Linked DNA regions of Homo sapiens: regions 2, 3 and 4 are each linked to region 1. Evidence: fine-mapped expression QTL. A gene starts in region 1. Each other region holds a variant in brackets. All regions are shown on one strand. Distances are from middle to middle.

What was found. PIP is the estimated chance that this variant, and not a neighbour inherited with it, causes the effect.
Region 2: its variant is fine-mapped to the expression of TNFSF10 in blood mononuclear cells (TOPMed, PIP above 0.99). The same link has a PIP of 0.9 or more in monocytes and whole blood.
Region 3: its variant is fine-mapped to the expression of TNFSF10 in whole blood (INTERVAL, PIP above 0.99).
Region 4: its variant is fine-mapped to the expression of TNFSF10 in whole blood (TOPMed, PIP above 0.99). The same link has a PIP of 0.9 or more in blood mononuclear cells and monocytes.

What each region holds. Positions count from the first base shown.
Region 1 is chr3:172,521,504-172,529,837 of GRCh38, reverse strand. It overlaps TNFSF10 (TNF superfamily member 10), which reads left to right and starts at 6,408. Exons shown (of 5, transcript NM_003810.4): 1 at 6,408-6,585. The coding sequence starts at 6,454. It also overlaps the pseudogene TBPL1P1. RefSeq lists an enhancer at 6,427-6,476.
Region 2 is chr3:172,555,261-172,563,594 of GRCh38, reverse strand. It overlaps LINC02068 (long intergenic non-protein coding RNA 2068), which reads left to right. Exons shown (of 4, transcript NR_146714.1): 4 at 2,526-2,694. Among named protein-coding and RNA genes, the nearest start is that of TNFSF10, 36 kb to the right of the region's middle. The variant A/G (reference allele first, on the strand shown) is at 4,406.
Region 3 is chr3:172,494,519-172,502,852 of GRCh38, reverse strand. No RefSeq gene overlaps it. Among named protein-coding and RNA genes, the nearest start is that of TNFSF10, 25 kb to the left of the region's middle. The variant T/A (reference allele first, on the strand shown) is at 3,686.
Region 4 is chr3:172,573,968-172,582,301 of GRCh38, reverse strand. It overlaps LINC02068 (long intergenic non-protein coding RNA 2068), which reads left to right. Exons shown (of 4, transcript NR_146714.1): 3 at 7,962-8,029. Among named protein-coding and RNA genes, the nearest start is that of LINC02068, 17 kb to the left of the region's middle. The variant G/A (reference allele first, on the strand shown) is at 4,381.

The DNA.
Region 1 (8,334 bases):
TCTTGCTCACTTGTCCATGGGTTGCCTGGGAATCAGCTGATCTAGGCTGTGTTGAGCTGACTTTGGCTCCAAAATGTGGACTGGGTCTATCTCAGCTCCATGTATCTCTCATCCTCCTTGGACTACCCAGTGTTTGTCTTCTCATGGAAATAACAGAGTTGGACAAGACCAACCATGAAATTTTAATCTAAGCCTTCTCATGTTAGGTTTACTGATATTCCAATGGTCAGATCACATTACCAAGTCCCACATGGGTGAAGAGGGGATATATACTCCTTATATACTGATATGAACTGTGAAGCCACATGGCAAAAGGTATGAATAGAGAGATGGATGAAGAATTGGAGAAAATAATAAGATCTACCATATTAACCTATACCCCACCCCATCCTCCAACATAAAGAAAGAAACACTTAGGTAGTGACTACTGTTGGTATAATTGCTGTTTTTTTGGTTTGTTTTTGTTTTTTTTTGAGACGGAGTCTTGCTCTGTCACCTAGGCTGGAGTGCAGTGGCATGATCTCAGCTCACTGCAACCTCCACATGGCCTGATATAATTGTTTTAATAGCTATTGAAGTCTTCTCAGAAGATGCTGGGTGTGGTGGCTCGTGCCTGTAATCCCAGCACTTCGGGAGGCTGAGGCGGGTGGGTCACCTGAGGTCAGGAGTTCGAGACCAGCCTGGCTAACATGGCGAAACCCCGTCTCTACTAAAAGTACAAAAATTAGCCAGATGTGGTGGCAGGCACCTATAATCCCAGCTACTCGGGAGACTGAGGCAGGAGAATCACTTGAACCCAGGAGGCAGAGATTGCAGTGAGCCGAGATCACATCATTGCATTCCAGCCTGGGAGACAGAGTGAAACTCTGTCTCAAAAAAAAAAAAAAAAGCTGTTATCTCCAAAGAGTTTGTAAAAAGTGGACAGATACTTTGTATTGCTTAAGAGGACTCACCTGGCAGCAGTTTGCCCTCTTCATTCTGGAAGCTCAGTTGTCCCAACACATATGAGATTACTAGCCTGAATGAGCAGCTATTGAGTGGTGGAGTATGGATGCTCGGGCAGAAGTGTCCAAACACATATCCAATGTCATATCTAGTGTGATGGGGGGAGGAGGAATAAATGATTTGAGGAATACAGAATTGTTTTTGCTCCAATATAGTGTGGATAAAATAGCCAAAGTTTAGAGCAATTTACCTGGAAGCAAATAGATGTGAATTCTAGTCATTCTGCCATTTTGTAATTCAACAACCACGACTAACTCACTTAACTTTTGGTGCTTTAGTTTCCTTATCAACCAAGCAATAGAATTTTCCTGGGGGTCTTTAAGATGTCTAACAGTCCAGTCATTTTATGATTCTACCATTGTCTGATTATAAAAATAATAGGATTTGGCTGGGCGTGGTGGCTCATGCCTGTAATCTCAACACGTTGGGAGGCCGAGACGGGTAGATCATCTGAGGTCAGGAGTTCGAGACCAGCCTGGCCAACATGGCAAAACCCCGTCTCTACTAAAAATACAAAAATTAGCTGGGTGTGGTGGCACGTGCCTATAGTCCCAGCTACTTGGGAGGCTGAGGCGGGAGAATTGCTTGAACCCAGGAGGCGGAGGTTGAAGTGAGCAGAGATCATGCCACTGCACTCCAGCCTGGTGACAAAGCGACATTCCATCTCAAAAAAAAATTTAAAAAACAATAATAATAGAATTCATTTCTTCACTCAAAGACAGTGTGTCCAAGACCTGACAAGACTTCATTTTTATTTTTATTTTACTTTTTATTTTTTTGAGTCTACGTGTCCTGCTCTTGCCCAGGCTGAGGTGCAGTGCATGATCTCAGCTCACTGCAACCTCCTCCTCCGAGCCTGAAGTGATTCTCCTGCCTCAGCCTCCGGAGTAGCTGGAATTACAGGCACGCACCACCATGTCCGTGAGCCACCGCACGCGCCCAGCCTAACAGCTCTTATAATTAAATCCTTACTTCAGAAGAAAAGTTTTAAAATCTTTAAAAATCTTCAAAAATCTTCACAGGGCACCAGTGGCAGCAACAGCTTCTGTTTTTCCCTTCATGTTAAAAGCAAACAAGGATCAACTATTGGCAAAATTAAGTGCTGGAAGTATAGATCTTTTAGAGAAATACCCAGCCTTATAGTCCCGAAACCTTTTCCTGCATCTCTGCTTGAGGAATGTACAGTCTTCTCTTCACCTCCTTTGTCCCTTGGTCTGATTAGGAAAACAATCCAAGCCTCCCAGTGTGGTTACTTAAACTTACTTTAACATTTACATTTTAACTAACATCTTTATTCACAGAATGAAATATTTGGCACTTAGTCTAGGGATGTCATGCACTAGGAAACAAGTAATAGATTTCTTGTAAGGCTTGGTGGGGAAGACTTAACAATTCTGTGTCTGTGACCATTCTGCAGAACACACTGCTGCTCCTGAGGTAAAGAGCCTTAAGATTCTGGAGACTATGAAATGCTCATTCATCCAACCAGCATAGATCGTGCTCACAGTGTGCAAGGCATTGGTAGCAATGCATGTGGCAAAGTTTCACTCTCATGCAACCTACATTCTTATAAATGGGGTAGCCATAAAATAAACAAATAAGTATAGAAACAAACAAGAGGCTGGGCGTGGTGGCTCACGCCGGTAATCCCAGCACTTTGGGAGGCCGAGGTGGGCAGATCACGAGGTCAGAATATTGAGGCCATCCTGGCTAACAAGGTAAAAGCCCATCTCTAGTAAAAATACAAAAAATTATCTGGGTGTGGTGGCATGCACCTGTAATCCCAGCTACTCAGGAGGCTGAGGCAGGAGAATCGCTTGAACCCAGGAGGTGGAGGTTGCAGTGAGCGGATACGGCGCCACTGCACTCCAGCCTGGGGGACAGAGTGAGATTCCGTCTCAAAAAAAAAAAAAAAAAAAGGAAACAAGATACACTGGAAGTTCTCTAACCTTCAGTCAGTATGTTCCACACAGGGAATGAAGAACTTAGGCTATTCTTCTGTTTCCATCTATATATCTAACAAGAATTAAATTATTCTCAGAACTGATTATGCCAGTTGTAATTACATAGTTCATATAAATATCATGGAAGCCAATAAAATATGAGTTGTTTCTTGGAATGCTGAATTTAATGCTTTGTAAGGACTTCATTAAAAATTACTTAAAAATTATAAAACAGGCCGGGTGCAGTGTGTAATCAAGCCTGTAATCTCAGCACTTTGGGAGGCTGAGGAGGGTGGATCACTTGAGGTCAGGAGTTCAAGACCAGCCTGACCAACATGGTGAAACCCCGTCTCTACTAAAACTACAAAACATTAGCCAGGCATGGTGGTGCACAGCTGTAATCCCAGCTACTCAGGAGGCTGAGACACGAGAATCTCTTGAACCTGGGAGGCGGAAGTTGCAGTAAGCCGAGATCCCACCACTGCACTCCAGCCTGGGCAACAAAGTGAGACTCTGTCTCAAAAAAAAAAAAAAGTATTTTTAAAAGGTTCTCAGCCGGGTATGGTGGCTCACGCCTGTAATCCCAGCATTTTGGGAGGCCAAGGCAGGTGGATCACCTGAGGTCAGGAGTTTGAGACCAGCCTGGCCAACATGGTGAAACCCTGACTCTACTAAAAATACAAAAAAAAAAAAATTAGCCAGGTGTGGTGGCGGGCACCTGTAGTCCCAGCTACTCGGGAGGCTAAGGCAGGAGGACCACTTGAACCCAGGAGGTGGAGGTTGCAGTGAGCTGAGATTGTACCACTGCACTCCAGCCTGGGTAACAGAGTGAGACTCTGTCTCAAAATAAATAAATAAAATAAAATAACAAATTCTCACTCCAGTTTAAAGAAACTGAATTGCTGATTAAAGGTTATGGTTAATGTATGGATGCCAGTCAGCAGATCCATGCTAGTAATAATAATAATAATGGCTTTAGCTCTATATTATTTAAACATTGTTATAACAAAAAGATTAAGATTTCTCTATATCAAATATGTATATATAATATCTTCATATTTAATACGTTAGGAGGCTCAAAGATAGAGGTAGCCAGACCTCTTGACTTTTTTTTTTTTTTTTTTTGAGCTGGAGTCTTGCTCTGTCACCCAGGCTGGAGTTCAGTGGCACGATCTCTGGTCACTGCAAGCTCTGCCTCCCGGGTTCACACCATTCTCCTGCCTCAGCCTCCCAAGTAGCTGGGACTACAGGCACCCACCACCATGCCCTAATAATTTTTTGTATTTTTAGTAGAGATGGAGTTTCACCGTGTTAGCCAGGATGGTCTCGATCTCTTGACCTCATGATCCGCCCGCCTCGGCCTCCTAAAGTGCTGAGATTACAGGCGTGAGCCACCGCGCCCAGCCGACTCTTGTAACTCCTCAAATCACCCCATCTCTTGACCTGACCCCGAGATAAGCCTCCTTATTTCCACACTCTAGACTTTCTTACGTGCTTATAAGATAGAGATGTTGACTTCCTGCACGTTTCCCATTCCTTCGTTTCATGCCTTTCACGTACATCATAGCCGTAATGTTTCTATTTCTGGATTATAACAAAGGTGTTAAGTTGGTTTTCTTTGGTCTTCTCCCCTGTGTTTCTCTGCCATCTCTCGTTTCTTGTTTCTGCCCTGCCCGGCTGTGTGTCTTGTGCATTACGGTTATCCTACTCATCTTTCACCTGATTTAAAAAACTCATTCAGTCTAGGACTTAGAGTGTAAGTGTGTTCAAATAGTGTTAGGTTCACATAATGTCTAAAACTTTTAGTAGGAAAAATGCTACCTTGCCAATTTGTCTGTGTCTGAAAGGAATTTGCATTTAAAAATTTGGCAATTTGACAGAGGCAAATTTAAAATTTGAAAATATTTTCTTAAATATAGACTCATTTACAGATAGAAGGCAAGGGCAGGAAGTGATGGTGACCAGCGGTGCCTGAATGAACTCAGGAATGTAACTGTAGATCTAGGGTCCCAAACTTTAGGTTTCAAAGGATCTCTTGGAGTACTTGCTGAAAAATGTAGGTTCCTAAGTCCACTGCCAGAAACTCTGACTCAGTGGGTCAAGAATGGAATAACTAAACAATGGCCCCATGCAGTGGTTCATGCCTGTAATCCCAGCACGTTGGGAGGTTGAAGCAAGAGGATCACTTGAGGTCAGGAGTTCGAGACCAGCCTGGCCTACATGGTAAAACCCCATCTCTACTAAAAATACAAAAAAATTAGCTGGGCATGGTGGCATGCACCTGTAATCCCAGCTACTTGGGAGGCTGAGGCAGGAGAATTGCTTGAATCTGGGAGGTGGAGGTTGTAGTGGGCCGAGATTGTGCCATTGCACCACTGCACTCCAGCCTGGGCGATAAAGTGAGATTCTGTCAAAAAAATAAATAAATACATGAAAGAGAGAAAGAAAGAAAGAAAGAAAGAAAGAAAGAAAGAAAGAAAGAAAGAAAGAAAGAAGGAAAGAAGGAAAGAATAGAAAAGAAAAGAAAGAAAGAAAGAAAGGAAGAAAAGGAAAGAAAGAAATGCTGAATAAGATATAGAGACAACATACAGCTGGGCCAGCTTATGACATCTGATAGTGGGGAGATTTGGGGCTGGGTCCTGAATCTGAGGGTAATTAACTCCCTGTAACTTCTTTTCCTAATCTGTAAAAGGATAGTGACAGCGAGACATTGTGATGGGGTTAATATTTTGGAAAACATCCACATGTTTTTTTCCTTTGCCTTTCTGAGTGTGTCAACTACTTCCTACCTGTCCAGCCTAACACACAGGCATGTTGTCTTGGTAGGGATGGAGATCTGAGAAGGAGATTAGAATTTGTGTCTGAAGGTTTGCAAAGAGGAAGAAGTCGTCAATATTTAGATTCTGACATTCAAGATGGAATTATGTAGCAAGACCATTGCTATGAGACAGTATTTCTATTTTCCTTTATCCACTCCCACCCTGCCCTCTTCCCACCCTCACAGTAGCATGAGAAAAACCACATATGGAAGTTTCAGGTCATAAAAATTATCTTATAATTTAGAAAACAGGCCTTGTGCCTATGACAGCCAGGCCATGAGGCTTAGAGCTCTGTGGTAGAATGAGGATATGTTAGGGAAAAGCAAAGAAAATCCCTCCCCTCTTTGGCTGAGGACATTATCAAAAGGAGAGCAAGAAAGAGAAGAGAGAAATGGGCTTGAGGTGAGTGCAGATAAGGGGTGCATGGATCCTGAGGGCAAGGAGAGGAGCTTCTTTCAGTTTCCCTCCTTTCCAACGACTACTTTGAGACAAGAGCTGTCCCTGGGCAGTAGGAAAGGGGAGGGACAGTTGCAGGTTCAATAGATGTGGGTGGGGCCAAGGCCACAGAACCCAGAAAAACAACTCATTCGCTTTCATTTCCTCACTGACTATAAAAGAATAGAGAAGGAAGGGCTTCAGTGACCGGCTGCCTGGCTGACTTACAGCAGTCAGACTCTGACAGGATCATGGCTATGATGGAGGTCCAGGGGGGACCCAGCCTGGGACAGACCTGCGTGCTGATCGTGATCTTCACAGTGCTCCTGCAGTCTCTCTGTGTGGCTGTAACTTACGTGTACTTTACCAACGAGCTGAAGCAGGTCAGTGCAGTGCAGTGCACTCAGTCTTCGAGGCGCTTAGCAAATGTCTGGTTACCTGCTTCTTTGCATGTCAGCTTGCCCCTCTCTGAAGACTTTCCTGCTTCCTTTCTCTGTGGGTACACTCTAACTGCTAAATCACATAACAACTGAGGTCTTTGCAAAACTGTAAGTTCAAGAAATTGTGTAAACTAAGTGCAGTTACACAACTGGCTTCACTAGTTACTAGCAGATGTGGGCAACAAAACTCCTGAGGGATTTTTTGTTTTTAAAAGTATGTGTATTTTATAATATCAGCCATTGCAACTCTTCATGAAAGCTTTCTGCTAAATGCTTTGTAGTTCTTTTGTTTTCCTTTTCCAAACTTTTATTTGTGCACATTCAATTGAAAAAGATAATTTTTACAGGTTCTTTGGTGCCCATTTTCAGCATACAAAAATGTAAAAGACTATTCACAGATAAAACACATTAGCTCAAAATGGAAAAAAATAACAATGACAACAATAAAACAACCTAAGGTAGTGCACACTGTGACAGCTCTGCTTATGGGGACATGAGAATTCCTGCGAAAATAAATAGAATGTCCTTTTGTAAAAGCAGCAATGACATGTCTTGTAAACTTCCTTTTTTATATTATAACAAGGTTTGGAATAAAATCCAAAGGGACTGGAGCTTACACTGTAGCCATGAATAAATAAAAGAGTCTATTTCCTCAATTACCGTTGGTTCAGTTTTCCTTTTGAGTCCAATGTGCAGCAGGTTTTAAAAGGTGCACAGTAAGAGATTCTAACCAATTAAGTGGTGAATGATAAAATTTCTTTCCTGCTTTCAAACACAAATGGGTAAATCTGTTCCACAGCAGTAGCAACAGCCTTTAAATAGGGCCTTGTTACTGTGATACTTCCTGTCGAAAAAATCTGTAATGTAGCTCTTAGAGTCTTTATCCAATAGCACACAGCAGGATGAAGTTCAGATTCATAACTCACATGAGGTCTATTGCTCTTTGTGAATTCTGGCAAACAGATTTCTTTATTTTTAAATTTTTTTATTTTACTTTAAGTTCTGGGATACGTGTACAGAACGTGCAGGTTTGTTACATAGGTATACATGTGCCATGGTGGTTTGCTGCACCCATCAACCCATCATCTAGGTTGTAAGCCCCACAGGCATTAGGATTTGTTCTAATGCTCTCCCTCCCCTAGCCTCCCACCCCCGACAGGCCCCAGTGTGTGTGTTGCCCTCCCTGTGTCCATGTGCTCTCACTGTTCAACTCCCACTTATGAGTGAGAACATGCAGTGTTTGGTTTTCTGTTCCTGTGTTAGTTTGCTGAGAATGATGGCTTCCAGCTTCATCCATGTCTCTGCAAAGGACATGAATTCATTCTTTTTAATGGCTGCATAGTATTCCATGGTGTATATGTGCCACATTTTCTTTATCCAGTCTATCACTGATGAGCATTTGGGTTGGTTCCAAGTCTTTGCTATTGTAAATGGTGCTGGAATAAACATATGTGTGCATGTGTCTTTATAGTAGAATGATTTATAATCCTTTGGGTATATACCCAGTAATGGGATTGCTGAGTCAAATGGTATTTCTGGTTCCTTGAGGAATTGCCACACTGTCTTCCACACTGGTTGAACTAATTTATACTCCCACCAACAGTGTAAAAGCATTCCTATTTCTCCACATCCTTCCAGCATCTGTTGTTTCCTGACTTTTTAATGACCACCATTCTAACTGGAGTGAGATGG
Region 2 (8,334 bases), 34 kb before region 1:
GCAAGAAAGGTGACCTGAGTTCAACTGCAAAACAAAGTCATATATCAGTGCTGTAGGCACCAGCAATAAACATTTCTTTAATTTGAATTCAGGGGCATTCTCACCATCAGACTAGTACAATCAAAACAACATTGCTTTTCTACCGAGTAACCTTCACTTTGACCAGTGACCGTACAAACATGTATGATTCATTTCACTGAAAATATATCACCTTGAAAACCTCCCTGAGTGGCCAATAAGTTCATTTCTGTGACACTTAGTTTTCTGATTGCACCTTAACTTTTACCAAACTGTTTCTCAGATCTAGATCTTTGCCTTTTGAATACACTTGCCAAAGTATGAAGTAAAAGTTATTTTCTTTGGTTGTTTATTCTTTGGTTAGGTATTACATAATCCAGAAACCACAGAAAAACAGAACATTGTTAAAGTTAAACAGCTTAAGTTGCCTAATAACTTGCGAAAAGCCAAATTAATAGGAAAGAATGCCAATAGGAAGCTCTCAAGGCAGCTCCTATTCCTGGAATTTTCCGTCTCAGGAAATCCAGGCGTAGGATAGTAAAACCACTCAGACGTAATCACCCTGCCTTATTCCTCAGATGAGTTTCTCTCTCTCTCTCTCTCTCTGTCTCTTTTCTCTCTCTCCCCCACTCTCCCACTCCGCCCTTTTACTGTTTCCTGACTCATTTCCTCACACTTTTTGTGGAAACAAGTTAACATTAATTTTAAAAGTGAAAGCTGGATGCCTATGAATCTTAAAACAACTTTTGAGAAAAAAAAAAAACCTCTTTGTCCTTCTTCTTACATATAAATGCAGGTAATATTATGGGGTCTTTGCTTGCTTTACTTCTTTAGCAAGACAGGACCATTGTTATTAGGATTCTGCACTAAGCCATACTGACTTGATGTTCATCATCAAGGCCAGCTGTGGCTCCATTTATTTTATTTTATTTTTTATTATTTTTTGAGATAGAGTTTTGCTCTTGTCGCCCAGGCTGTAGTGCAGTGGTGCGATCTCGGCTCACTGCAACTTCCGCCTTCCAGGTTCAAGTGATTCAGCCTTCCAAGTAGCTGGGATTACAGATGTTCGCCACCACGCCCGGCTAATTTTTGTATTTTTATAGACATGGGATTTCACCATGTTGGCCAGACTGGTCTGGAACTCCTGACCTCAGGTGATCCACCAGCCTTGGCCTTCCAAAGTGCTGAGATTACAGGCGTGAGCCACTGCGCCCAGCCTCAATTTTAAAATGGGTAAAGTTGAGCTTCATTTCCTCCTTCTCAAAAATGTTTTCCATTTGCCCCTGATGACTCTTGAGTTTCAGGTTCTGTAGATCTTTTCAGTCAATGGTAAAAACACTTTGACAAACTCACTCATTCATACCAGATATTGGCGACCTTATATATAAGTGTTCCCAGAGCACTGCCACTTTCAGAGACTATATTAAAATACAATCATGTGCCGCTTAACAATGATGGGGATGTGTTCTGAGAAATGTGTCATTAGGTGATGTTGTCATTGTGTAAATATCGGATTGTGCTTACACAAACCTAGATGTTATAGCCTTCCAGACCCAGGCTATAGTTTATTGCTCCTAGGCCACAAACCTGTACAGCATGTTACTGTACTAAATACTGCTGGCTATTGTAATACAATGTTAAGTTACAGTAAAAATATGATACAAAAGATAAAAATGCTATGCTTGTATATGGAGCTTGCAGAACTAGAAGTTGCTGTGGGAGAGTCAATGATTGAGTGAGTGAATGTGAAGGCCTTAGGACATTGCTCTACACTACTGTAGACGTTATAAACACTGTACACTTAGGCTACACTAAATCTATTAAACTTTTTTTTTTTTGAGACAGAGTCTTGTTTTGTTGCCCAGGCTGGAGTGCAGTGGCACAATCTCGGCTCACTGCAACCTCCACCTCCTGGGCTCAAGCAATTCTCCTGCCTCAGCCTCCTGAGTAGCTGGGATTACAGGTGCGCGCTACCACGCCCGGCTAATTTTTTATATTTTTGGTAGGGACGGGGGTTTCATCATGTCGGCCAGGCTGGTCTCGATCTCGTGACCTCGTGATCCACCCGCCTCAGCCTCCCACAGCTCTGGGATTACAGAAGTGAGCCATTGTGCCCGGCCACATTTTTTCTTTCTTCAATAATAAATTAAACTTAGCTTCCTGTAACATTTTTAGTTTAAAAATATTTTAATTTTTTTTAAACTTTGTGATTCCTTTGTAATAACACTTAGTCTAAAACACATTGTCTAACTGTACAAACATATTTTCTTTCTTTATATTCTTAGTCTATACGTTTTTCTCTATTTTTAACAATTTTTATTTTTAGTTTTTAAACTTTTCATTAAAAACAAAGACACAAACACACATACTAGCCCAGGTCTACACAGGGTCAGGATCATCAATATCACTGTCTTCCATCTCTATGTCTTACCTCGCAGGGAGACGGGGGCAGTAACATGCATGATCACCAGTATCACTGTCTTCCATCTCTATGTCTTACCTCGCAGGGAGAGGCGGGCAGTAACGTGCATGGAGCTGTCACCTCCTATGACAACAACACCTTCTGGAATACCTCCTGAAGGACACGCCTGAGGATGTTTTACAGTTAACTTTTTAAAAAATACATAAGTAGAAAGAGAACACTCTAAAATAAAAATAAAAGGTATAGTATAATAAACACAATAACAAAGTCACTTATTACTATCAAGCATTGTATGCTGTACATAATTGTATGTGCTATGCTTTTATATGACTAACAGTGCAATAGATTTGTTTACACCACCATCACTAAGGGCATGCAAGTAATGTGTTGTGCTACAACATACTACAACTATGATGCCACTAGGTAACAGAAAATGTTCAGCTCCATTATAATCTTATGGGACCACCTTCCTAGATGCAGTCTGTCATTGATGGAAACGTTGTTACACAGCACATGACTATAGACTAATAGCCATAGATTTATAATATGGGAGGATGTACTATATATGCATTGAAAAGAGCTCTGGAAGGATACCAATACATTACCAGAGGTTGCTTCTGGGCCTTAGGGTATGTGTGGTTTTATATTTTCTCCTTTGCACTTTTCTGTGTCGTATCCAAAATTTCAACAACATAATACATTTACTGTTAGGAAAAATAACCTATTAATTAAAAACAAGATACAGGAAAGAGGGAAATGTTGCAGCTAGCCACAAGGTTAATAACTTATTTTAAAACATGTTAGGAACTATTTATTCATTTGTTTGATTATTCATTCAAGAAATATTTTTGATTGCCTAATATGTGCTAGGAATTTGGCTATGCTCTGAGGCTAACAGGTGAACAAAGCAGTGATTTATTTGCTCTTCTTTGCATTGGTCGCTATAGGAGGAGGCCAATAGATGCTATCGCATGAAAATAATAATTGTTGCTGGGCGTGGTGGCTCACACCTATAATCCCAGCACTTTGGGAGGCCGAGGTGGGTGGATCACCTGAGGTCAGGAGTTCAAGAGCAGCTGGCCAACATGGTGAAACCCTCATCTCTACTAAAAATACAAAAAGTAGTTGGGCGTGGTGGTGCACACCTATAATCCCAGCTACTCAGGAGGCTGAAGCAGGAGTATCACTGCAACCCAGGAGGTGGAAGTTGCAGTGAGCCGAGATCACACCACTGCACTCCAGCCTGGGTGACAGAATGAGACTCCGTCTCAAAAACAAACAAACAAAAGCAAAATGAAAATAATAATTTTTTTTTTGAGACTGAGTTTTGCTCTTGTTGCCCAGGCGAGATCTCGGCTCACTGCAACCTCCGCCTCCCAGGTTCAAGCAGTTCTCCTGCCTCAGCCTCCCAAGTAGCTGGGACTACAGGCGTGTGCCACCATGCCCGGCTAAGTTTTGTATTTTTCGTAGAGACAGGATTTCACCATTGTTGGCCAGGATGGTCTCGATCTCTTGACCTCGTGATCCACTCGCCTCAGCCTCCCAAAATGCTGGGGGGTTTACTTTATTTTAAAATAAAAACTCCTAACCTCTTAAGTTAAATAAAATGTTTTAATATATAAACATTCATTTTTATGCCAACATAGTCATAAAATATTACCTAATTTTTTTTTTTAATAGAGGAAGGGGCCTGCAAAGCAAAGGTGTCAGGCCCATGAAAGTCAGAGTAGAGCCCTGGCTGTGGCCCCAAGGAAAGGCAGTTTTTTAGTTTGCGTCCCACATGCTGGCAGTTTTCAAAGTCTGACTGCAATATTTAGAAGAGAGAACTCTGCAGAGAGATGGCCTCTTTGGGTTTCCCCACAGCAAAACAAAACACTTCATGAAAAACACCCTCATAAATTGGTCCTCACTTCAAATCACAGGATAGTTGCATAACTTGTGTCCCCATTGTGGACAGCTGCTTCC[A/G]GCTCAGGGAGATGGCATGATTCTCTGAGGAGTTGGAGTAGTTTGGGTGATGCATGGCGTGTGCATATTCTCTTACTGTAAAAAGAGAAGCAAACCTATAATGATGATAATTTGACACAGTGGGTAGAAAGGGGTGGGCAGGATCTGAGGATCGTTCTGTCAGGGACCAACCGGTCATCAAAGAAATTGTTAAGTTAGCACAGATTAGAATAATTGATGCTAACATTATCTCTGGATGGACTATTCTACCTCATGACTCTCATGAAAATGGGGTGGATGGCGGGGCGTGGTGGCCCATGCCTGTAATCTCAGCACTTTGGGAGGCTGAGGCAGATGGATCATCCAAGGTCAGGAGTTCGATACTAGCCTGGTCAACATAGTGAAACCTCATCTCTACTAAAAATACAAAAAATTAGCTGGATGTGGTGGCGTGTGCCTGTAGTCCCAGTACTTGGGAGGCTGAGGCAGGAGAATTGCTTGAACCCGGGAGGCGGAGGTTGCAGTGAGCCGAGATCGTGCCACTTCACTCCAGCCTAGGTGACAGAAAGGGACTCCATTTCAAAAAAAAAAAAAAAAAAAAGAAGTGGATGTCAAAGTCATCTGGGGAGCATTTACAAGGTGAAGGCATCCACAAGAGTCTAATTCCCCACCCTCCAACCCTCACCCCATCCAGGGAAGTTTCCATACCTTCCTCTTAAAAATCACTGCCATAGTAAGCTCCTGTTACTGAAGAAAACATATTATATTTCTCAATGTGATGAACTGGGGGAAAGATTGATAACTGCTGATGTGGAAGACAAAGGAATACTGAGAGACGGGGAGCCAACACCTTCCTATTATTTACCATGGCCAGGTGCTGTAGTGCTTTACGTATTTAACTCATTTAGTCTTCACAATAATCCTGCAAGGGGGTTAGTGTTACTAACCCCATTTTCTAGATAGAGAAACTGAGGCACAGAGCGGTTAGGTAACTTGATTGAGGCCACATAGACAATAAGTGACAGTGCTGGGAGACAAGCCCAGAGCCTGGCTCTGGAGTTTGTGCTATGACTAGTTACTGAGTGGAGAAATCAATCATCAAAACGACACCCACGTATTTTACAATGCCTGTGCACATGAACTAGCTAGAAAATCTGTATATTTTACTAATAATGTCATGTGTTCTTTTCCCGACCCTTTGTTTTATAAAACCCTAGGGAGGCATCCTTCCATTATCATTGAATAGGAATTCTGGAATCCTGTGTACACCCAGCCATTTATCTGGAGGTATCTGGCAAAGGACTATTTTGTTAAAAAAAACAAAAAAAATAACTAGCCAAAGTATGAAGTAACAAAATTTGTACTTTGAGATGCCACATGTATTGAAACAAGTCTGGATTTATTTATATCTTTAATCATTTTCTCTCATGTTTCAACATGTTTTTGGTCTCTCTAGTAGGTTATGAAATCCAGTTCAAATAGATTTCTCAACAGTTGGTTCTGAACATAGATGCTCAGGGGAATATCAAGAACTTTCTCTAATTCACCACTCATGTCCAACATGAAAAGGTGTTAGAAAGCTACTGCTTTGTTCTTGTTATTTTCTGGTTTCCTATTTCTCAGCTGTGAACTTGAGTAGGTCTGTATTGGGACCAACCTCTTCCTTCTTCAGCCATCACTGCCTGCCCCAAGTGCAGCTCCCAAGCTGGCCTTGACCACTCAGCCTTTGCATGCTTTCTCCTTGCCCTTCCCCTAACCCTAATGAGGATTTTACCTCTCAGGGAAAATGCCTGTCCTTTTTAAATGTTTCCTCTGTGAAAGGCATTTCAGCCATCTGGGAAACACAAGGAATGCTCTTTGCTAAAGGCATACCTCCCAGTCAACTGTTTAAACTTTATTTAAGGGTGGACAATAAATTGCTTTATGTCCCTGATTATCTGCCCAATTGCAAATGAAAATGGACCCATGACAAGAGTTGTAGAAGGTCGTGAGAGGAAGCAAAGTCTTTTTTTTCTCCAGAGCTATAATGGTGCAGGAATACTCTGCCAATTCTCTCTCTCTCTCTTTTTTTTTTTTTGAGAAGGAGTTTCACTCTTGTTGCCCAGGCTGGAGTGCAATGACGCGATCTCGGCTCAGTGCAACCTCTGCCTTCTGGGTTCAAGCGATTCTCCTGTCTCAACCTCCCGAGTAGCTGGGATTACAGGTGCATGCCACCACACTCAGCTAATTTGTGTATTTTTAGTAGAGACGGAGCTTCATCATATTGGTCAGGCTGCTCTCGAACTCCTGGGCTCAGGTGATCCGCCCATCTCGGACTTCCAAAGTGCTGGGATTACAGGCGTAAGCCACCACACCCGGCCCAATTCTCCTTACTGAGGTGTGTGTATGTAGTATTTAGTTTATTTTTATGATTGCAAAAATAATACAGAATTGCCATCTCTATTCGGAAAACAAAGAAAGGCACGAAGATGAATATAAAGTAATCTACAGTCCCACAGCCAGAGATAATGCATGTTAATCATGTCAATATGTAGATATTAACTCGTATCCACCAAGTCATTAAAAGGACATGTTCTATTCACTGTTTTGTTATATGATTTTTAAAAAATCTAATTACTGGCTGGGCGCGATGGCTCAAGCCTGTAATCCCAGCACTTTGGGAGGCCAAGGCGGGCAGATTATGAGGTCAAGAGATCGAGACCATCCTGGCTAACAGGGTGAAACCCCGTCTTTACTAAAAATACAAAAAATTAGCCAGGCGTGGTGGCTGGCGCCTGTAGTCCCAGCTACTTGGGAGACTGAGGCAGGAGAATGGCGTGAACCTGGGAGGCGGAGCTTGCAGTGAGCCGAGATTGTGTCACTGCACTCCAGCCTGGGTGAGAGAGCAAGACTCTGTCTTAAAAAAAAAAAATCTAATTACTGTATTTTGATTTTTTCATATCATTAAATATTCTTCTATCAATACCACATACCAAACATCATGTCACTTTATTGATGTATCTGGCCCCTAAATTAAATTTAACATATTTAGTGTATATATTTAGGTTGAACTACTTTTAATAGCTATTTTTCTAGTTTAAAGTAGTTGAGTATCACCGATTTCAGTGTTTCAACCTGATATTTTCCTGTTACTAGATTTTTAGGTTACTTCCAAATTTTCTTTTATAAACATTGATGCACTGAACATTTTCCCCATAAATCTCTTTGCAAAACTGTGATTATTTTCTTAGGATACATTCCTGGCAGTGGAATTGCTGGGCCAAGGGGGATGAATATTTTTATGGCTTTTGATACACAATGCCAACTTTCCTTCTCGATAATGCTGATTTATAATCTCTTTGGTATCTTCTCTGCTGCTTTTTTTTTTAAAGACTCAATTATTCTGTTCAGTTAAACTTTGTATTAATTACCATGAAAACATGTGACTATTGGTTATCTTTCAGCACAGTCTTCCATTTTATACTTTATCAAATAATATTTTTATGTGCGCAGAGCCCTCATAAATCCTTATTTAATGTAGATTTGAGGATAAATATTGCTTAGATCCAATCACCACGTAGAGTGGTGATGTACTAAAGGAGAGGGAGACATGGTGTGGGTACACGTGTGCACGTAGATGAGTGTGTATATAAGTATACATTAGGGAACTCTGACAGTCACTCTTCTACAGGTAACAATTGATTGGGTCTAAAGGAAAAATTTTATCTATTTATTTATTTATTTTTTGAGATGGAGTCTCACTCTGTCGCCCATGCTGCAGTGCAGGGGCGCGATCTTGGCTCATTGCAACCTCTGCCTCCCGGGTTCATGAGATTCTCCTGCCTCAGCCTCCCAAGCTGGGATTACAGGTGGCTGCCACCATGCCTGGCTAATTTTTGTATTTTTAGTAGAGATGGGGTTTCACTATATTGGTCAGGCCAGCCTCAAACTCCTGACCTCAAGTGATCAAC
Region 3 (8,334 bases), 27 kb after region 1:
AATTCAAATCCTAGTTCCACCACTTACTTGAACAGATTAGTAAATTCTGGGTCTCAGTTTCCAACTCTGTAAAACAGGGTCGTTACTGTAGTCCTCTCACATGATTGATGTGAATATTAATAGATTTTACACTTAACATACTTAGCACAATGTCTGGTACATAATAAATGCAAACAAAATTTTTAACTATTGGCCAGGCATGGTGGCTCATGCTTGTCATCCCAGCACTTTGGGAGGCCAATGCAGGCAGATCACTTGAGCCCAGGAGTTTGATACTAGCCTGGGCAACATGGCAAAACCCCGTCTCTACAAAGAATACAAAAATTATCCAGGCCTTGTGGCATGGGCCTGTGTTCCCATGACTCAGGAGGCTGAGGTGGGAGAATCACTTGAACCCAGGAGACCAAGGCTACAGTGAGCTGTGATCACACCACTGCACTCCAACCTGGGCTACAGAGAGAGACCCTATCTCAAAAAAAAAAAATTGTTAACCGTTATTATTATATTGATCTGTACCCATAAACCTTACCAAACTCTCTTATTCAAAGCTTTATGAAGATACAAAGATCTTCAGTAAAAGGAAACACATAATAAAATATAAAAATCAGAATTATTGTAATTTTATTTATAAACTCTGTATTTTCTACAATATCTAAAACATAACTGCATAAAACAATTACAAGTCTATGTTAGTGGGTGCATATATAAAGATCTAATTTGGGACAATAATATGGAGTTAGGAGGAAGGGATAGAGCTCTAAAGAAGTAAATGTTTTTTATGAAATTGAAGTTAAGTTGGTATCAATTCAAAATAGATTTTATAACTTTAGGATATTATATATAATCTTTATGGTAATCACACAGAAAATATTTATAGAATCTACATGAAAGGAAATGAGATGGTAATAAAAAAGTGTCACCATAAAAAGTCAACTAAACACAAGGGAAGGTAGTAATGGAGGAAAGGGACAAAGGAAGCTATATGACACAGAAAACAAATAACAAATGGCAAAAGTCAGTCCTTCCCTGTCCATAATTACTTTAAATATAAATGGATCAAATTCCCCAATAAAATGCTATAGATAGGTAAAAAGACTAAACACATTAATTAAAAAAACCATGATCCCACTACATGCTGTCTCTCAGGGACTCATGTTAGACCTAGGAACACACATAGGTTGGAATTGAAAAGATGGAAAAAGATATTATTGCAAATAGTAACCAAAAAGGAACTAGAGTGGTCATACTAATCTCAGACAAAAATAGAGTTTAAGTGTAAAACACTTACAAGAGACAAGGGTTCATCTAGATTGGATTTACAAAGAAGTTGTGAAGAGATAGTCTAGAGAGTTCCTGTATATCCTACATGCAGTTTCCCCTATTGTTAATTTTTTTGTTAGTATGATACATTGGTCACAATTAATGAAACAATACTAATACATAATTATTAAGGAAAGTCCATACTTTATTTAGATTTCCTTAATTTTTACCTAATTTTTTTCTGTTCTGAAATCCTATCCAGGATACCATGTTACATTTAGACTTCCTTTCTTTTTAGACTCCTCCAGACAGTGGCAGTTTCTCAGATGATCATTGTTTTGAAGCCTTTACAATTTTGAGGAGCAAGCAGGTTTTCTGTAGATAACACTTTATCAGGTTAAAGAAATTACTTTCTATCCCTAGCTTCCTAAGAGTGTCAATATGAATAGGTTGTTGAATGCTTTGTCTAGATATATTGAAATAATTATATGATTTTTTGATCCATTTACCTGTTAATAGGTGCCTGCATTAATAGATTTTTTATTTATTTATTTATTTATTTATTTAATTTATTTATTTATTATTATTATACTTTGAGTTTTAGGGTACATGTGCACAATGTGCAGGTTAGTTACATATGTATACATGTGCCATGCTGGTGCGCTGCACCCACTAACTTGTCATCTAGCATTAGGTATATCTCCCAATGCTATCCCTCCCCCTCCTCCCACCCCACAACAGTCCCCAGAGTGTGATGTTCCCCTTCCTGTGTCTATGTGTTCTCATTGTTCAATTCCCACCTATGAGTGAGAATATGTGGTGTTTGTTTTTTTGTTCTTGCGATAGTTTACTGAGAATGATGATTTCCAATTTCATCCATGTCCCTACAAAGGACATGAACTCATCGTTTTTTATGGCTGCATAGTATTCCATGGTGTATATGTGCCACATTTTCTTAATCCATTTGACACAGCCATCCCATTACTGGCTATATACCCAAAGGACTCTAAATCATGCTTCTATAAAGACACATGCACACGTATGTTTATTGTGGCATTATTCACAATAGCAAAGACTTGGAACCAACCCAAATGTCCAACAATGATAGACTGGATTAATAGATTTTTTTATAATGGTAAATTATTCTTATAATCTTGAGACAAACTCTAATGGATCATGTTATTTATTATATACAGTAGTGAATTTAGTTTGCCAATATTTTACTTAGGAATTTTACTTATGTTTAGTTTACTTATGTTTGTTAATAAGATTATTTTAAAATTTTTCTTCCTCATTGTATTCATATGCCATTTTGGTGTCAAGGTTATACTAACTTCCTAAAATAAGGCAGGGAGTTTTCCCTTTTACAGAAGAGTAGAATTTTGATAAGTGGCTCAGTTTATTTAATGATTACACATATATTCATATGATTAATTTCTTTTTATTTCATATTTATCTAAAAAATATTCAAATGTTTGAACATTTATTAGCATTGATTTGTGAATAACTGATGCATATTCCACAAAATCATTCTCCAGTTAGCCTATCTTGATATAAAGCATTTTGGTTTTTAATTCAAACACTTCGTGGAACACGGGTATCTCTTACTACAACATATTTCAGATGGGTAGTTTGCAAATATTTTCTGCCATTATATGGGTTGTCTCTTCACTTTGTTGGTTTTTCATTTGTTGTGCAGAAGCTTTTTAACTTAATATGATCACATTTGACCATTTTTGCTTTTGTTGCCTATGCTATTAGGGCATTACCCACGAAATTTTTGCTCAGACCAATGTCAAGGATACAGGATAGAGTGGCAGTTACCCAGAGGCTGGAAAGAGTGTAGTGGCTGTGGGGGTCAGCGGGGGTAGGGGGTTGGGAATGAGGTGTGGATGCTTAATGGTAAAAAAAAATAGTTAGAAAGAATGAATAAGACCTAATATTTGATAGCACAGCAGGGTGACTATAGTCAATAATAATTTAATTGTATATTTTAAACTAACTAAAAGATGATAGTTGGATTATTTGTAACAAAAAGGATGAATGCTTGCGGTGATGAATGCCCAATTTTCCTTGATATAGTTATTAGACTATTGCATGCCTGTACCAAAATATCTCATGTACCCCATAAATGTATGCATAAATGTATACACCTACCGTGTATCCACAAAAAATAAAAAAATAGAACGGGCCCAGAGGCTTACACCTGTAATCCCAGCACTTTGGGAGACAGAGGCAGCAAAACACCATCTCTACAAAAAATACAAAAATTAGCTAGGCATGGTGGCACACACCTGTAGTCCCAGCTACTTGGGAGACCAAAATGGGAGGATCACTTGAGCCCAGGAAGTGGAGGTTGCAGTGAACCAAGATCTCGCCACTGCACTCCAGCCTGGGTGACAGAGTGAGACCTTGTCTCAAAAAA[T/A]AAATAAATAAAAAGTAAAAGAAGAAAAACAAGAAAAAATCATTTTTCAAACAAAGTTTAGAAGTGAAAAAGTTAATTTGCCTCTACAAAACTCAGTTCAGCAGTTTAAACAAAACATATTCTGAGAAAATTCTCAAATTACATCCCACATACCATTGAAATTCATGTTAGAACTACATGTAGACATTTCGAACAGTGTGAATAGAGACAATTTAGGTAATATGCTTCTTGGATGTTAGTAGTACTAAGTGAGGCAGCAAAGGGTCACAAACGGAAAGAAACCAAGCTCACAAACAAAACTAACTTCAAAAGGTGGTTTGTTTGTTTGTTTGTTTGTTTGTTTGTTTGTTTTTGGGGGACAGAGTTTCAATCTTGTTGCCCAGGCTGGAGAGCAATGGCACAGTCTTGGCTCACCGCAACCTCCGCCTACTGGGTTCAAGTGATTCTCCTGCCTCAGCCTCCCAAGTAGCTGGGATTACAGGCATGTGCCATCACGTCCAGCTAATTTTGTATTTTTAGTAGAGATGGGGTTTCTCCATGTTGGTCAGGCTGGTCTCGAACTCTTGACTTCAGGCGATCCGCCCACCTTGGCCTCCCAAAGTGCTGGGATTAAAGGAGTGAGCCACTGCTCCTGGCCACTAACCTCAAAAGTTTTTATAAATAGATGTTTGACACCACAGTAAATATATCCACCCTTCCAAAGGAAGCTCTCTTTGCAGAAACAGATAAAAATATCTTGGAAGGTTTTGAAATCTCAGACTAAAGAACTACCAAATTTTGTCTGTGTGCAGTGGCTCACGCCTGTAATCCCAGCACTTTGGGAGGCTGAGGCAGGCAGATCATGAGGTCAGGAGATCAAGACCATCCTGGCTAACACGGTGAAACCCCATCTCTACTAAAAATACAAAAAATTAGCCAGGTGTGGTGGCACACGCCTGTAGTCCCAGCTACTCAGGAGGCTGAGACAGGAGAATTGCTTGAACCCGGGAGGCCGAGCTTGCAGTGAGCTGAGGTCACACCACTGCACTCCAGCCTGGGAGACAGAACGAGACTCCGTCTCAAAATAAATAAATAAATAAATAAATAACGAACTACCAAATTTGTGCAGCTGGATGTGCAATGTCAATTTGCAGAAGAGATTATTGATTAAAAAGAACCCAAAGAGTAGCTAACCAAACCACCAAATGCAGCTGACGTCAAAGAATTTATGGCAATGCAGATGCAAAAATAATGTCCTTGACCATGGTGGCAATATGATAAAAGCCTTTCTTTCAAAAATGGCCCAATGTCTTTTTGGAACCATAGAAAGACGTGTATGAAAGTAAACAAGAGGAGCATCAGCAAAGAGCAAAGCTCTATTTAGCAACTTTCTTCATCCAAAAGCATCAAACCTCATTCCCTGAGAAACGGATATAGCAACATCAACATGATGGAGAATCTTATCAGATCCTGAAATTGACCCTCCACCACCTAACTCCTCTGTGCCATCACCTGCCACAACCAATGACAAACCACTACAGCTTTAACCCCCTTCCTTATGTCTCTTCTCAACTTTCTTCTACCTTAAATTTCTACTTCATTTAGTAAATATAAGCCACCTTGTTTTGCTTGTACATTTTGTCTACAGTTTTTCAAGCGATTTATTTTGCATCTTATTTGTTTAGCTATATTAGAAGTGTAATTTTTGGTCCAGTGTACAAGATGTACATGCTATTACATAGAAAGTCACTGTTAACTATATTAATTGTTTTGTGATTTGGGTTTTAAGTTACATTTTAACTTTTAAAAAGAAAATCTTATCCATTGGTGAGGGGCCAAGATGGCTGAATAGGAAATGCTCTGGTCTGCACCTACCAGCAAGACCAATGCAGAAGGCAGGTTATTTCTGCATAAATTGAGGTACCCAGTTTATCTCACTGGGACTGGTTAGGCAGTGGGTACAACCTATGGAGAGTGAGTAGAAGCAAGGTGTGGCGTTGCTTCACCTAGGAAGTGCATGGAGCTGGGGGACCTCCCTCCTTGAGCCAAGAGAAGCGTGAGGGACTGTGCTACCCAGCCAGGTTACTACACTTTTCCCGCGGTTTTTGCAATCCACAGATCAGGAGATTCCCTCTTGTGCCAACACCACAAGGGCCCTAGGTTTCAAGCACAAAACGGCGTGGCTGTTTGGGCAGACACTAAGCTAGCTGCAGGAGTTTCTTCTTTTTGTACCCCAGTGGCACCTGGAACCCCAGTGAGACAGAACTGTTCACTCCCCTGGAAAGGGGGCTGAAGCCAGGGAGCCCAGTGGTCTTGCTCAGTGGGTCCCACTCCCACAGAGGCCAGCAAGCTAAGAACCACCGGCTTGAAATTCTCACTGCCAACACAGCAATCTGAAGTTGACCTGGGACCATCAAGCTTGGAGTGGGGGAAGGGGCGTCTGCCATTACTGAGGCTTTAGTAGGCGGTTTTCCCCTGACAGTGCTAAGGAGGCTGGGAGGTTTGGACTGAGCAGAATTCACCACAGGGCAGCAAAGAGGCTGTGGCCAGACTGTTTCTCTAGATTCCTCTTAACGGGGGAGGGCATCTCTGAAGGAAAGGCAGCAGCCCCAGTAAGGAGCTTACAGAAAAAATGTCCATCTCCTTGGGACACAGCACCTGGAGGAAAGGACTGCTGTGGGCACAGCTTCAGCAAATTTAATCTTTCCTGCCTGCCGGCACTGAAGAGAGCAGCTGATCCTGACAAGGAGGATTCTCCCAGCACAGTGCACCAGCTCTCCTAAGGGACAAACTGCCTCCTCAAGTGGGTCCCTGACCCCCATGCCCCCTGACTGGGAGAGACTTCCCAACAGGGGTTGACACATACCTCATACAGGACAGCTCTGGCTGGCATCAGGCCAGTGCCCCCCTGGGATGAAGATTCCAGAGGAAGGAGCAGGCAGCAATCTTTGCTGTTCTGCAGCCTCCACTGGTGATACCAGGTGTAACAGGGTCTGGAGTAGACCCCCAGCAAACTGCAGCAGACCTGAAGAAAAAGGTTCCTGGCTATTAGAAGAAAAACTAACAAACAGAAAGCAACAACATCAACATCAACAAAAAAGACACCCACACAAAAAACCCACCCAAAGATTATCATCCTCAAAAATCAAAGGTAGATAAATCCATGAAGATGAGGAAAAACCAGTGCAAAAATGCTGAAAATTCCAAAAACCAGGATGCCTCTTCTCCAAATGATCACAACTCCTGTCCAGCATGGGCACAAGACTGGAAGGAGAATGAGATTGATGAATTGACAGAAATAGGCTTCAGAAGGTGGGTAAAAACAAACTTGTCTGAGCTAAAGGAGCATGTTCTAACCCAATGCAAGGAAGCTAAGAGCCTTAATAAAAGGTTACAGGAACTGCTAACAAGAATAAGCAGTTTAGAGAAGAACATAAATGACCTGATGGAGCTGAAAAACACAGCATGAGAACTTCGTGAAGCATACACAAGTATCAATAGCTGAATGGATCAAGCAGAAGAGAGGATATCAGAGACTGAAGACTGCTTTACTGAAATAAGCTATGAAGGCAAGGTTAGAGAAAAAAAGAATGAAAAGGAACAAACAAAGCCTCCAAGAAATATGGGACTACGTGAGAATACCAAACGTATGATTTGATTGGTTTACCTGAAAGTGACGGAGAGAATGGAACCAAGTTGGAAAACACACTTCAGGATATTATCCAGGTGAAGTTCCCCAACCTAGCAAACAGGCCAACATTCAAATTCAGGAAATACAGAGAACACCACTAAGATAGTCCTTGAGAAGAGCAACCCAAGACACATAATCATCAGATTCTCCAAAGTTGAAACGAAGGAAAACATGTTAAAGGCACCCAGAAAGAAAGGTCAGGTTACCTACAAAGGGAAGACCATCAGACTAACAGCTGATCTCTCTGCAGAAACTCTACAAGCCAGAAGAGAGTGGGGGCCAATATTCAACATTACTAAAGAAAAGAATTTTCAACCCAGAATTTCATATCCAGCCAAACTAAACTTCATAAGCAAAGGAGAAATAAAATCCTTTACAGACAAGCAAATGCTGAGGGATTTTGTTACCACCAGGCCTGCCTTATTCTACCAGAGGTAGAAATTGGAGCTGGTACCATTCCTTCTGAAACTCTTCCAAACAATAGAAAAAGAGGGACTTCTCTCTAACTCATTTTATGAGGTCAGCATCATCCTGCTATCAAAACCTGGCAGAGATACACAAAAAAAATTTCAGGCCAATATCCCTGATGAACACTGATGTGAAAATCCTCAATAAAATACTGGCAAACTGAATCCAGCAGCATATAAAAAGCTTATCCACTATGATCAAGTCAGCTTCTTCCCTGGGATGCAAGGCTGGTTCAACATACACAAATCAATAAACGTAATCCATCACATAAACAGAACCAATGACAAAAACCACATGATTATCTCAATAGATGCAGAAAAGGCCTTTGATACAATTCAACATCCCTTCATGTTAAAAACTCTCAATAAACCAGGTATTGATGAAACACATCTCAAAATAATAAGATCTATTCGTGAAAAACCCATAGCCAATGTCATACTGAATGAGCAAAATCTGGAAGCATTCCTTTGAAAACCAGCACAAGACAAGGATGCCCTCTCTCACCACTCCT
Region 4 (8,334 bases), 52 kb before region 1:
ACTCTATTTCCTGATCAATTTTTCTGTGCATCTAAAAATGAACCTAAAAAATAAGGTCTACTAAACAACAACAACAAGAGGTGACAGTTTAGTTGACTGTTTGCTATCACCTATCAAGGATCTTCCCTTCTCAGCCAGGATAGGAAGATTTCCACCCTCCTGTGATACATCTTGTCTTGTACAAATCCAATTTAGGGTTTGTCCCATGTAAAACTTCATTTCCATAGACTAACTTCTAGAATAAAGACTTCTTGAGTCATTCAGAAACCTAACTCAAACTGGCTCAATTGAATGTGAGAATGTATCAGTTTATGTAACTAAAAAGTCTAGGGACTAAGATAAGGCTGCATTCAGGCATAATTAAATCCAAGTACTTAAAAGATGCAGTCAGAAATCAATCTCCTCTCTCTCTCTGTCTCTCAGTCTTCCACTCCATCTCCCACCTCCATGTTGACCTCATTCTTATGAGACCTCTCTCCATGTGGTAACATATGGGTATCAGCATCTCTAGACTCACATTCTGCCACTTAAGCTATACTTAGAAACAATAATCTTCTTTCTCAGAAAAATTCAAGCTGCTACCTCGATTGATAAACTGCAGCCACTTGTGCATGGCTTAAACAACTTTAGTCCATTGTTTCCAAAATTATATTTGCATGTCACTGGTGCTCCCTGAGATGATCTGGTAGTAAGCAAACATTTATTATAATACATGCCAGGGGCTAGAGGGGAGGGACGGATAAATAGGCAGAACATGGAGGATATTTAGGGAAGTGAAATTATTCCGATATTATATTGGTGAATGCATGCTGTTTTACATTTGTCACATGTATAATTATGTGTAAATTTTTATGCATAATAAAAAATAAGTAGTGCCTCAAAATTTTTTTTCTTTTGCTTGGGATGAGGCTGAAATAGGAAGGAAAGTAGTATTCATTTTACAGGATTAGGGTGAGTTTCAGATATGGTGATCAGGCATGTTCATGATCATTTTGTACCTTTACGAATCGAATTATCAAACAAGACTTAACCTGTTCCATGTAGTTGAAGTGCTGTACAGGCAGAAAAAATCTAGTCACTGTTGTATACTGAGGGGAAAATCTTAGGTTAAGTCCCTCAAAGATTCTGGAAAAATTTCATATGGTAATTCATAAGGCAATTTTTGAAAGGAAGTCAATATGTCACAAATTGAATGTAACTTTGAAAATCTTTACCCTACTTTGGAAAAAAGTATCATTTTAGTATAACATAAAATGAACTACATGACTGTCCTCTCCATGGTTAAATTCCTTGTCTGCCAACATTATATAACTGACTTTTGTTTCTTCTGATTTGTTTTCATGCAGTTAATTTTCAAGAGGAAGAGCTTCCTTCCTAAATTTGATTCAAATCTATTCCAGGAACAAACAGAAGCTTAAAGTTTCTTTTCACAGTTTCTTTTAAGGCGCCACTTTTGTTTCTCTGTGGTTTCATTATGAGAAGTAACTCAAAGTGGAAGAAGATTGTTGTAATGTATTGCATTTCTATACTTGAGAGAGTTTTTAAGTTCTTCAGATAAGTATGGTATGTGGTTGCAAGGTAATTTTCACTTATTTGCAATAATACAAATTTGTGAATTTCTGTTATTTGTTAGCTACACAGTTTATAGTATTTTGTTACAGCAGGCCCAACAGAATAAGAGAGACAATAAGCAGATTCTGGGAAAATGGCAGAGTAGGAAGAACCAGGAATCTCTCTCCTGACCTACCCAACTAATGCAGTGGCAGAATATGACTTAACTATCTTGGAACTCTGGAGTAATCTAAGGTTCACAATTTCCAGAGGAAGGCTTAGGTTGTGTATTAGTTTGTTCTTACGCTGTTATGAAGAAATACCTGAGACTGGATGATTTATGAAGGAAAGAGGTTTAATTGACACACAATTCCACATGGGTGGGGAGGCCTCAGGAAACTTATAATCATGGTAGAAGACAAAGGGGAAGCGAGGACCTTCTTCACATGGTGGCAAGAGAGAGAAGAGTGAAGGAAAAACTTCCAAACACTTATAAAACCATCAGATCTTGCGAGAACTCACTATCATGAGAACAGCATGGGAGAAACTGCCCCCATGATCCAATCACCTCCCTCCCTTGACATGTGATGATTACAGGTGCTTCCCTCGAGGTGTGGGGATTACAGTTTGAGATGAGATTTGGTGGGGACACAGAGCCAAACCATATCATTCCACCTCTGGCCCCTCCCAAATCTCATGTCTTTTCACATTTCAAAACCGATCATGCCTTCCCAACAGTCCCTCAAAGTCTTAACTCATTTCAGCATTAACTCAAAAGTCCACAGTCCAAAGTCTCATCTGAGACAAGGCAAGTCTCTTCCACCTATAAGCCTGTAAAATTGAAAGCAAGTTAGTTACTTCCTAAATACAATGGGAGGACAGGCCTTGGGTAAATGCTCCCATTCCAAATGGGAGAAATTAACCAAAACAAAGGGGCGACAGGCCCCATGCAAGTCTGAAATCCAGCAAGGCAGTCCTTAAATCTTAAAGCTCCAAAATGATCTTTTTTGACTCCATGTCTCACACCCAGGACACACTGATGCAAAGAGTGGGCTCCCATGGCCTTGAGTAGCTTCTTCACAGGCTGGCATTGAGTGCCTATGGCTTTTTTAGGTGCACGGTGCAAGAAGGAGGTGAATCTACCATTCTTGGGTCTGGAGAACAGTGACCCTCTTCTCACAGCTCCCCTAGGCAGTGCCCCAGTGGGGACTCTGTGTGGGGGCTCCTACCCCATATTTCCCTTCCACACTGCCCTAGCAGAGGTTTTCCATGAGGGCTCTGCCCCTGTAGCAGACCTCTGCCTGGCCATCCAGGCATTTTTATACCTCCTTTGAAATCTAGGCAGACATTCCCAAACCTCAATTCTTGACTACCATGTACCCACAGGCCTAACACTACAGGGAAGCTGCCAAGGTCTGGGGCTTGTACCCTCTGAAGCCACAGCCTGAGCTGTACATTGGCTCCTTTTAGCTATGGCTGGAGCTAAAGTGGCTGGGATGCATCATACCAAGTCCCAAAGCTGCACACAGCAGTGGGGGCCTGGGCCTGGCCCAATAAATCATTTTTAACCTCCTAGGCCTCCAGGCCTGTGATGGGAGGAGCTGCCGCCAAGATCTCTGACAGGCTCTGGAGATATTTTCCCCATTGTCTTTGTGATTAACATTGGGATCCTCATTACTTATGCTAATTTTTGCAGCCAGTTTGAATTTCTCCCCAGAAAATGGGTTTTTCTTTTCTACTGCATGGTCAGGCTGCAATTTTTCCAAACTTTTATGCTCTGCTTCCCTTTTAAACGTAAGTTCCAATTTCAGGTCATCTCTCTCAAGTTCAAAGTTCCACAGAAATCTAGGGCAGGGGCAAAATGTCACCAGTCTCTTTGCTAAAGCATAGCAAGAGTGACTTTTCTCCATTTCTCAATAAGTTATTAATCTCCATCTGAGACCACCTCAGCCTGGACTTCATTGTCCATCCATATCATTATCAGCATTTTGGTCAAAACCATTCAACAAGTCTCTAGGAAGTTCCAAACTTTCCCACATCTTCCTGTCTTCTTCTGAGCCCTCCAAATTGTTCCAATCTCTAACCATTACCCAGTTCCAAAGTTGCTTCCACATTTTTTTGTATTTTTGTAGCAGTACCCCACTACCTTGGTACCAATTAACTGTATTAGTCTGTTTTCACACTGCTATAAAGAAGTACCTGAGACTGGGTAATGTATAAAGGAAAGGGGTTTAATTGAATCACTGTTCCACATGGCTGGGGAGGCCTCAGGAAGCTTACAATTATGGCAGAAGGGGAAACAGCCACCTTCTTCACAAGGAAGCAGGAGAGAGAGCACACAGGAAAAAACTGCCACTTTTAAAACCAGCAGATGTCATAAGAACTCACTCATTATCATGAGAACAGCATGGGGGAAACCACCCCCATGATCCATTCACCTCCCTCCCTTGACATGTGGGAATTACATGTTCCTCCCTCAACACAAATAGGGATTATAATTCAAGATTCGATTTGTCTGGGGACACAGAGCCAAACAATATCAGGTTGTAAATTGCAGTTAGTTTCAGTCATTGTCAGCTGTAGCCATCCCTTACCCTCAGCGGCTTGGCAGGCAGCTGTGCAGATGATCCTGGAGTAGCTTACACATAGCTTTGCCCAGTGTGGACAAAGGAATGCTGTACTCTAATTATTGGGGATCTGTGCTCTAAATTGTTGCTTCTAAACATAGAAGTACAGAAAAAGGAAACCACTGTTGCATGTTCTCTTATTGTTGCCCCCCTCCCCCACCGACCCCACTTCCCCCACCCTCTAGTGACTTCCAGGAAATTT[G/A]AAAGGCAAGTGCTTTTTCCCCACTTTCATTTTTCTCCTTTCTTTTCTGGAGGGTCAGACATTAAGGACTAGGACATTTGAAATTAAGTCACCACATAAACCCGGGGAAAGGGGTACAGACTCAGAAAACACTTGAGAAGACCTTACGTTTGCACCTCAGGCTAATGCTCAGCACACAGATAGCCTACAACCACCCCACAAAAACCAACCCCAAAACAAAACTCGGCAAGTCCTGGGAAGGGAGAGAATCTGATTTTTAAAGTTATCACATTACTAGACCCAAATGTTCAGTTTTGAACAAAAAAATCACAAGGTATATGTATTGGTCCATTTTCATGCTGTTGATAAAGACATACCTGAGATTCAGCAATTTACGAAAGAAAGAGGCTTCTTAGACTTACAGTTCCAAATGGCTGGGGAGGCCTTACGATCATGGCGGAAGGCAAGGTGGAGCAAGTCACATCTTACGTGGAAGGCAGCAGGCAAAAAAATAACTTGTGCAGGGAAACTCCCGTTTTTAAAACCATGAGATCTTGTGAGTCCCATTCACTGTCAAAAGAACAGCACAGGAAAGACCCACCCCTGTTGATTCAGTCATCTCCCATCGGGTCCCTCTCATAACACATGGGAATTATGGGAGCTACAAGATGAGATTTGGGTGGAGACACAGAGCCAAACTGTATCAGTATACAAAGAAGCAGTAAAGCATGGACCATTCAAAGGAAAAAAAGAAATCAACAGAAACTTCCTTGAAAAGACCTGATGGCTGGTGAATCTACCAGACATAAAAACAACGGTCTTAAAGATGCTCAGAGAACTAGAGGAAGATGTAGAGAAGGTCAGGAAAACAACACATGAACAGGACGTATCCCATGACGCTCATCCAAATGAAACCATTTGGTGGGGTGCAACCCCAGAATCACGATGGGTGCCTTGTGTACAGGAGGCCAAACTTTATATAAGTATTGTACATTTAGCAGTGGGAACTACAATCCCTGGCCATGGTAAAGGTGCTAGAGGAATCCACAATTAAGTGCATGGCAACTTTCCATGTGACAGTGTTAGTTTTGAATCTCGCAGTGTCACCTGTCATTCTTGCCCACAACTGGAAATGACAGTGACCCCAGTGTCCCCAGTGTTCAAGAGACTCATAATAGTTTGTGTAGTACCCTTTTCCCCTGCCTCTCAAACTAGGGCACAGGCGTTCAGTTCCCACTGGTGGCCCCAAATCTTGGCCCCATCTTTAGTCTGTCTTCTCCAAAGATGTTAGCTCAGGATATAATGGTGGAAGTGGTTCCTTTTCAAGTAGTTTCTCTCTGGCACCCACCAATGCCTCTGCTGTTTTGAACCCTTCAAGTGTTGGTGGGAACACTCAGGGCAGAGAACCAGTCAGCAAAATCAACTCAGTCTAACAAGCATTCCTCTTGCGGTTCAATTGCTTGAACCAATCGTTTAACATTAAGATCTCAGGATTTGGGCTGGGCGCTAGTGGCTCATGCCTGTAATCCCAGAACTTTGGGATCTGCTGCACAGATCAACCCATCACCTAGGTATTAAGCCCAGCATCCATTAGCTATTCTCCCTGATGCCCTCCCTTCCCCATCCCCTGACAGGCCCCAGTGTGTGTTGTTCCCTGCCATGTGTCCATGTGTTCGCATTGTTCAGCTCCCACTTCAGGCCGAGGCGGGCGGATCACGAGGTCAGGAGATCGAGACCATCCTGGCTAACACGGTGAAACCCTGTCTTTAATAAAAATACAAAAAATTAGCCAGGCGTGGTGGCAGGCATCTGTAGCCCTAGCAACTCAGGAGGCTGAGGCAGGAGAATGGCATGAACCCAGGAGGCAGAGCTTGCAGTGAGCCAAGATTGTGCCACTGCACTCCAGCCTGGGTGACAGAGCGAGACTCCGTCTCAAAAAAAAAAAAATCTCAGGATTCATTACAGAAATGCAAAGCAAAATGACAATGAAATACCATCTCATGCCAGTCAGAATGGCGATTATTAAAAAATCAAGAAACAACAGATTTGGCAAGGTTGCAGAGAAAAAGGAATGCTTTTACACTGTTGGTAGGAGTGTAAATTCGTTCAACCATTTTGAAAAATGTGGTGATTCTTCAAAGATCTAGAGGCAAAAATACCATTTGACCCAGCAATCCCATTATTGGGTATATACCCAAAGGAATATAAATAATTCTATTAATATTATAAAGATATATGCACATGTATGTTTATTGCAACACTATTCACAATAGCAAAGACATAGATTCAACACAAATGCCCATCAATGATAGACTAGTTAAAGAAACTATGGTGCATATACATCATGGAATACTATGCAGCCATAAAAAGGAATAGGATCATGTCCTTTGCAGGGACATGAATGGAGCTGGAAACCGTTATTCTCAGCAAACTAATGCAGGAACAGAAAGCCAAACACCACCTGTACTCACTTATAAGTAGGAGCTGAACAATGTGAATACATGGACACATGGCAGGGAACAACACACAATGGGGCCTGTCGGGGTAGGGAAGGGAGGGCATCAGGGAGAATAGCTAATGGATGCTGGGCTTAATACCTAGATAATGGGTCGATCTGTGCGGCAAACCACCATGGCACACGTTTACCTATGTGACAAACCTGCACATCCTGCACATGTACCCCTGAACTTAAAATAAAAGTTGAAGAAGAAAAAAAGAGGAACGTGATAACCTTCAAAAAAGTCTCAAGATCCATAAATGCTTGAGGGGATGGGTACCACATCTTTCATGATGAGATTATTATGCATTGCATGCCTATATCAAAACATCCCACATACCCCATAAATATGTACGCCTACTATGTACCCACAACAATTAAAATAAAAAAATATAAAAAACAAAGAAAAAGAGAAAAAAATAAAATAAAAATTTAAAATAAAAACAAAAGATTTCAGTTTCCTCCCTCAGCTCATACTGATCCCTCAGTTGTTCAATAGGGATCCCATCTGTCTCTTCCTTAGCCACCATGCTTAAGCAGCCACCATGCTTAACAGCCATAGCCACACGACTCTTCCCTTGGGTCCAGGGCAGCCTGAGGCCTTCCTTTTCTGTGGCTCCTTTTATCTTTTAGTGGGCTCCTGATGGTGGTTTGGAGCTCCATTTGCTATGTGATGAGGGAGTAGCCACCACTCACCACTGTGGCTGTGTTTTTGGCAGCGCCCCACATGGGCACATTATGGTACAGTTTTCCAACGATGTCCCCCGTAGTCATTCCTAGGGAGACTAAGAGGGTTAATGGAGCCCACCTGTTGGATGCCCCCATTTTATTAAGTCGTGTATTTGCTGTCAAGCAGTGGTACATCATCTAAATCCCCTTCTGGATTGATAGAGCCATAGAGGAGGCTCCTGGGGCTCTCACCAAGTCAAAGGGTGCTTGAAAGTCTTTCTAGAATTGTTTCAATTTAGGAAGATCACCAGGTTTCAAGCAGATTGGTTTGTCACCAGATTGGTTTGTCACCTGTCCAATCCTGAGGAGTTGGCCTATTCAATGTGGGCAAAGATCCATTATAACAATTAATCCCATCCTCTCTCATCTGGTCCAGGCTTCACTCATTACAGGAGAAGAGAGTCTGGGTTGCTCCCTCATCAATCAAGTGCAGAGTCCAGGAAGGTATGAATTCGCTGGGCTTTTGGTCATATTGCTGTTTCTTCTTATCCAGCTCAATCTCAGAGAAACTTCTTATTTTAACTTGGGCAACATTGGCAATGCTGTCATTAATGTACTGCTAGGTAAAGACTGGGGGTAACTGGTCAGGGGGTGGTTTAGACCAAGGTGGCCCCAGGCTGGCAGCACAAAGGCAGCGACTCAGTAACCAGGAGATTGTTTGGTTTTGGACTTTCCCACCTCCTTAATTTTTGCCCACATCCCTCTAGTTAATTCATCAAGGTTCTCAGGGCTATTCTCACTATCCCATT